2 linked regions of the Homo sapiens genome follow. The protein of the gene in region 2 purifies or fractionates together with the protein of the main gene of each other region. This does not show direct contact. Each region holds a gene or a part of one and is shown on either strand. Other genes may lie near its edges.

The links. Proteins that work in one complex are often made in the same cells at the same time.
Region 1: the proteins of HP1BP3 (region 2) and LIN28A purify together in Homo sapiens (affinity purification with western blotting; 2 studies listed by BioGRID and IntAct, with this or other methods). This does not show direct contact.

Annotation. Positions count from the first base shown.
Region 1 is NC_000001.11:26,424,317-26,427,816, forward strand, and holds part of LIN28A (protein lin-28 homolog A), read left to right. Parts: intron 1-986; coding exon 987-1,171; intron 1,172-1,925; coding exon 1,926-2,142; 3' UTR 2,143-3,500. UniProt on the Homo sapiens protein: RNA-binding protein that inhibits processing of pre-let-7 miRNAs and regulates translation of mRNAs that control developmental timing, pluripotency and metabolism.
Region 2 is NC_000001.11:20,739,766-20,742,307, reverse strand, and holds the end of HP1BP3 (heterochromatin protein 1-binding protein 3), read left to right. Parts: 3' UTR 1-2,042; downstream 2,043-2,542. UniProt on the Homo sapiens protein: Component of heterochromatin that maintains heterochromatin integrity during G1/S progression and regulates the duration of G1 phase to critically influence cell proliferative capacity.

The DNA.
Region 1 (3,500 bases), 5.7 Mb from region 2:
CTGAAACCTCTGCCTCCGGGGTTCAAGCAACTCTCCTGCCCCAACTGCCCAAGTAGCTGGGATTACAGGCGCCCACCACCACACCCGGCTAATTTTTGTATTTTTAGTAGAGACAGGGTTTCACCATGTTGGCCAGGCTGGTCTCGAACTCTGGACCTCGTGATCCACCTGCTTCAGCCTCCCAAAGTGCTGGGGTTAAAGGCGTAAGCCACCGTGTGTGGCTGAGCCACCATGCCCAGCTATTTTTACTTTTATTTTATTTATTTATTTTTGAGACGAAGTCTTGCTGTGTTGCCCAGGCTGGAGTGCAAAGGCGCCATCTTGGCTCACTGCAACCTCTATAGTGTGACACTTTAAATTTCGTAATTTTATATTTGTTGATTTCTTCCAAATGCTTGTATTTACAAATTTTTCTGTTTGTTGTTGTTTGTTTGTTTGTTTTTGAGACAAAGTCTCACTCTGTCGCCCAGGCTGGAGTGCAATAGTGTGATCTCAGCTCACTGCAACCTTTGCTTCCTGGGTTCAAGCAATTCTCCTGCCTCAGTCTCCCAAGTAGCTGGGATTACAGGTGCCCGCCACCACGCCCAGCTAATTTTTTTTATTTTTAGTAGAGACAGAGTTTCACCATGTTGGCCAAGCTGGTCTCGAACTCCTGACTTCAGGTGATCCTCCCGCCTCAGCCTCTCAAAGTGCTAGGATTATAGGTGTGAGCCACCGTACCCGGCCCTCTGTTCTATTTTATTAAGAACTTTAAACCTGAATAGCTACAAAAATGTCATGGCATCTGCTTATATAATTACGATTTTTGTTAATGTACTGGTAGACTTTGTTGTTCTTAATCGTAGTGACTCTTTGAGTCAGTTTCCTTACCAGTAAAATAGGAGTACCATCACATTTGATTCCTACCCTACAGGAATAAGAGTTCCTTGTCTTTTGGTATAATAATGGAAATTAATGTTAAAATTTACTGCATTTCCCTTCACCAGAGTAAGCTGCACATGGAAGGGTTCCGGAGCTTGAAGGAGGGTGAGGCAGTGGAGTTCACCTTTAAGAAGTCAGCCAAGGGTCTGGAATCCATCCGTGTCACCGGACCTGGTGGAGTATTCTGTATTGGGAGTGAGAGGCGGCCAAAAGGAAAGAGCATGCAGAAGCGCAGATCAAAAGGAGACAGGTATGGATTGGAAGGCAGCTTATATAGGTTGCTAAGGGCATCCCCAGTCTCCCAATCCTGTCACTTTTTGGGTCACACTGCAAAAGACAAAGGGAAGCCTGTGGTCCCTGGCAGCATCTGGAAGGCTGAGCGCCTGCAATAGGTGTGGGCAAGGGCAGTAGGTGAGGAGGCCACTGGGGGTGACTTAGTGCTACTTGGGACAAGTAAGTTTGCTCTGTGGTCTCTAAGCCTCAATTGTTAAGTGAGGCAGTGATACTAACATCCTAGGATGGTTTTAGAATTAAAGGAGATCATAGATTTGCAAATGGTGGGACAAGACAGTATTATCTATATCTGTTGCTGCTTTACCAGGTCTGCAAATGGCTGGTTTCCTTAATCTTGCTTGGGCTTAAAGCCCCTTAGCTCTGAACAGATACTATAATTTGGCTTCTTTAATTTCTCCTATATTAAGGGTATGGAAGAATCTCTCCTATCCCCCAAGTTGCAGTTCCTAGTTGGGGTCAGTAACTTATATTTCTGGTATCTTGGTATTTTCAAGTTGACATGAATCTGAAGAGATCACCTAGACAATTAGATGTGGAAAGGACTTAGAGATCATTTAGTAATAGTCCTCCTTTTGCAAGTGGGAAGTTTGGTCTCTGGGAAGGGAAGTAAGTGACAAACCTGTACCAGAGCCCAGGTGTCCTCATTCGTGGGAGGCATCTGGCCTCTTCTTGCTCCTTTCTCTTACTTTTACGATCTTGCTTTGTACTAGGTGCTACAACTGTGGAGGTCTAGATCATCATGCCAAGGAATGCAAGCTGCCACCCCAGCCCAAGAAGTGCCACTTCTGCCAGAGCATCAGCCATATGGTAGCCTCATGTCCGCTGAAGGCCCAGCAGGGCCCTAGTGCACAGGGAAAGCCAACCTACTTTCGAGAGGAAGAAGAAGAAATCCACAGCCCTACCCTGCTCCCGGAGGCACAGAATTGAGCCACAATGGGTGGGGGCTATTCTTTTGCTATCAGGAAGTTTTGAGGAGCAGGCAGAGTGGAGAAAGTGGGAATAGGGTGCATTGGGGCTAGTTGGCACTGCCATGTATCTCAGGCTTGGGTTCACACCATCACCCTTTCTTCCCTCTAGGTGGGGGGAAAGGGTGAGTCAAAGGAACTCCAACCATGCTCTGTCCAAATGCAAGTGAGGGTTCTGGGGGCAACCAGGAGGGGGGAATCACCCTACAACCTGCATACTTTGAGTCTCCATCCCCAGAATTTCCAGCTTTTGAAAGTGGCCTGGATAGGGAAGTTGTTTTCCTTTTAAAGAAGGATATATAATAATTCCCATGCCAGAGTGAAATGATTAAGTATAAGACCAGATTCATGGAGCCAAGCCACTACATTCTGTGGAAGGAGATCTCTCAGGAGTAAGCATTGTTTTTTTTTCACATCTTGTATCCTCATACCCACTTTTGGGATAGGGTGCTGGCAGCTGTCCCAAGCAATGGGTAATGATGATGGCAAAAAGGGTGTTTGGGGGAACAGCTGCAGACCTGCTGCTCTATGCTCACCCCCGCCCCATTCTGGGCCAATGTGATTTTATTTATTTGCTCCCTTGGATACTGCACCTTGGGTCCCACTTTCTCCAGGATGCCAACTGCACTAGCTGTGTGCGAATGACGTATCTTGTGCATTTTAACTTTTTTTCCTTAATATAAATATTCTGGTTTTGTATTTTTGTATATTTTAATCTAAGGCCCTCATTTCCTGCACTGTGTTCTCAGGTACATGAGCAATCTCAGGGATAGCCAGCAGCAGCTCCAGGTCTGCGCAGCAGGAATTACTTTTTGTTGTTTTTGCCACCGTGGAGAGCAACTATTTGGAGTGCACAGCCTATTGAACTACCTCATTTTTGCCAATAAGAGCTGGCTTTTCTGCCATAGTGTCCTCTTGAAACCCCCTCTGCCTTGAAAATGTTTTATGGGAGACTAGGTTTTAACTGGGTGGCCCCATGACTTGATTGCCTTCTACTGGAAGATTGGGAATTAGTCTAAACAGGAAATGGTGGTACACAGAGGCTAGGAGAGGCTGGGCCCGGTGAAAAGGCCAGAGAGCAAGCCAAGATTAGGTGAGGGTTGTCTAATCCTATGGCACAGGACGTGCTTTACATCTCCAGATCTGTTCTTCACCAGATTAGGTTAGGCCTACCATGTGCCACAGGGTGTGTGTGTGTTTGTAAAACTAGAGTTGCTAAGGATAAGTTTAAAGACCAATACCCCTGTACTTAATCCTGTGCTGTCGAGGGATGGATATATGAAGTAAGGTGAGATCCTTAACCTTTCAAAATTTTCGGGT
Region 2 (2,542 bases):
AAGTAATTGTAGTAATTACTCCTGTGCTCTCTAGCAAGTAATGATTCTTAATAGTATGGATGTTAGGTACCTGTGCTCAGAATTCTGTACTCTTCTGGAATCAAAAGTTGGGAGATTTTGGTTGGTTTCTTTGCTTTATGATACTGCTTTTAAAGAGACTTACTGAATAATCACCTGGTGGCTGTATTGCACACCAGGCACTTAAGCACAGGCTGAGAAGTTTAGATCATTTAAAGTTTCTTCCAACTCTAACGTTCTGTTAACTATAAGGACAGTTTGTTTCAGTGTGATGTAAAGGGAAAAGACAGGAAGGTCATCGCACTCTTCCACGAACATCCACAACTGTCAAAGACATACGCCTTACTTACATTGAGATAAAAGAATGTTTGATTTTTCCCTTCCAGGCATTCCAAAGGAGCAGAACACATTTATAATTTTTACTTCCATGTTCAGAAAGGGGAACAACAAACCCCAGAGGTAATCCCAGAAATCTCTAGCATGGATCAATAGCTTCAGTACTCTGTTGGTGGCTTAGTGACCTCATTTACAGTGTTTCATACACTCTGAAACTACCTACAAGCTACCTTTGATAAATGAGTCTCAGAAAGTGCTGGGAGAGAGATTGTTGGCTTCTTAACCTACAAAATGAGGAAGGAAAGATACTATTGTTGAGAAATGTGGAGACCTTTCCTTAGCACTATGACAGAAGCATTCATTGCACATGGATTCTGACTATGCATCCACATGGACTTAATTAAAGGAAACCTGGTCCTGTATAAATCTTAGGAAACAGGTGTATGTTTTAATCATGTCTTTTGGGTATAATTAACAGGAAAATGACATGAAAACAAAACTAAACAATCTGCTAACACCTTTTGACATTTGTTTTTTCATCATTGCTGTTTTTCCAAATTTTGTTAGCCCTTGTCAAGGTTTGCTAACCAATTCTTAATTAATACTTACTTTAAAGAGCCTGTGAAATTATTCTCTCTCAGGCTGTGACCCTCTTGCCATCTTGATACGTCATGAGAACGAAACTCACCAGCCATGTTCATTAAATACTGCATTTAACTAAGAGAAACTTTAAAAATTTGGGATTATAGTTAAGGTCTCCTATCTTTGGAACCTGATTAATTTATCTTTCTTTGGATTAAGCAAAAATTCTAATTTTAGCTATGAAAGAAAAGAAATTCTATTCTTAATTGGAAAAGACCATTAAACTGTTTCCCCAGAGGTTCTGGTTGACATTACTTTCTAGCATGTAGATTTTGCTTTTGCATTTTCATGGTGGAACAGATGGTCACTCACTTCTGCAGAGCCAAAGCCAAGGAAGCAGAACTGTTGAAGTTTTGGCTTAGGAACCACTTGACAAAGATTTGTTTAGAAGCCATTACAGATGGTTAAACAGTACCCCTAATCAGCTGCATTATTTTCTTAAGAAATTAATCTCTACCGTCTTTATAACTATATTCTTTTACTTATTATTTTTTTGAGATGGAGTTTGCTGTGTCACTAAGGCTGCAGCGCAGTGGTGTGATCTTGGCTCACTGCAGCTTTGAACTCGTGTGCTCAAGCAGTTCTCCCCACCTCAGCCTCCCAAGTAGCCAGGACTACAGGCAAGCTAATAAATGCCTGGCTAATTTATCTTTTCTAGAGATGGGGCCTCACTGTGTTGCCCAGGCTGGTCTTGAACTCGTGGCCTCACGTGATCTTCCCACCTGGGCTTTCCAAAGTGCCAGGATTACAGGCGTGAGTCGCCATACCTGGCCCTATTCTTTCTTCTGTTCTTTTCCACAAGACTGTTAACTTCAGTGGCTTTTTTCCTGTTGGAAAACTTTCTACCTTTGATGATTTAATTTTATCAGCTTTTTAACTGTTTTAACTGTTCTTAATTCTGTCTTGTCAACCACTGGTATGTCAAAGGAGGCCTCAAAAGGCTGAAGCGATTTTCCTCAAAAATTACAACTCTTTTTTTTCCTGATATTGTATATAATGTATAATTAACACTGTTCACTATTAAATCTTTGCTTAGCAAAAGAGAACTCTGTGGTGCCTAGAGTATGTCTCATAAAGTATAGTTGTAAGTTTGGCTTATTAATGTAAGTAGTAATAGTCATAACGATTAACACTAGCTGAGCTTCTTCCACATCGGGCTCTGTACAGATACTATTTTTATTTTATTTTTGAGATGGAGTCTCACTCTTTCACCCAGGCTGGAGTGAAGTGGTGTAATCTTGGCTCACTGCAGCCCCCGCCTCCCGGGTTCAAGCAACCCTCCTGCCTCAGCCTCCCGAGTAGCTGGGACTACAGGCATGTGCCACCACGCCCAGCTAATTTTTGTATTTTTAGTAGAGACAGGGTTTCACCAGGTTGGCCAGGCATATTACGAATTCCTGACCTCAGTTGATCTCCTGCCTTGGCCTCACAAAGTGTTGGAATTACAGGTGTGAGCCACTGTGCCCAGCCAAGCACATGTTTAAGAGAGCAGAGGGCTTGGAAATGAAATTATTGCCAACTTTGCCAATAGTCAAGTCAGTGTGGC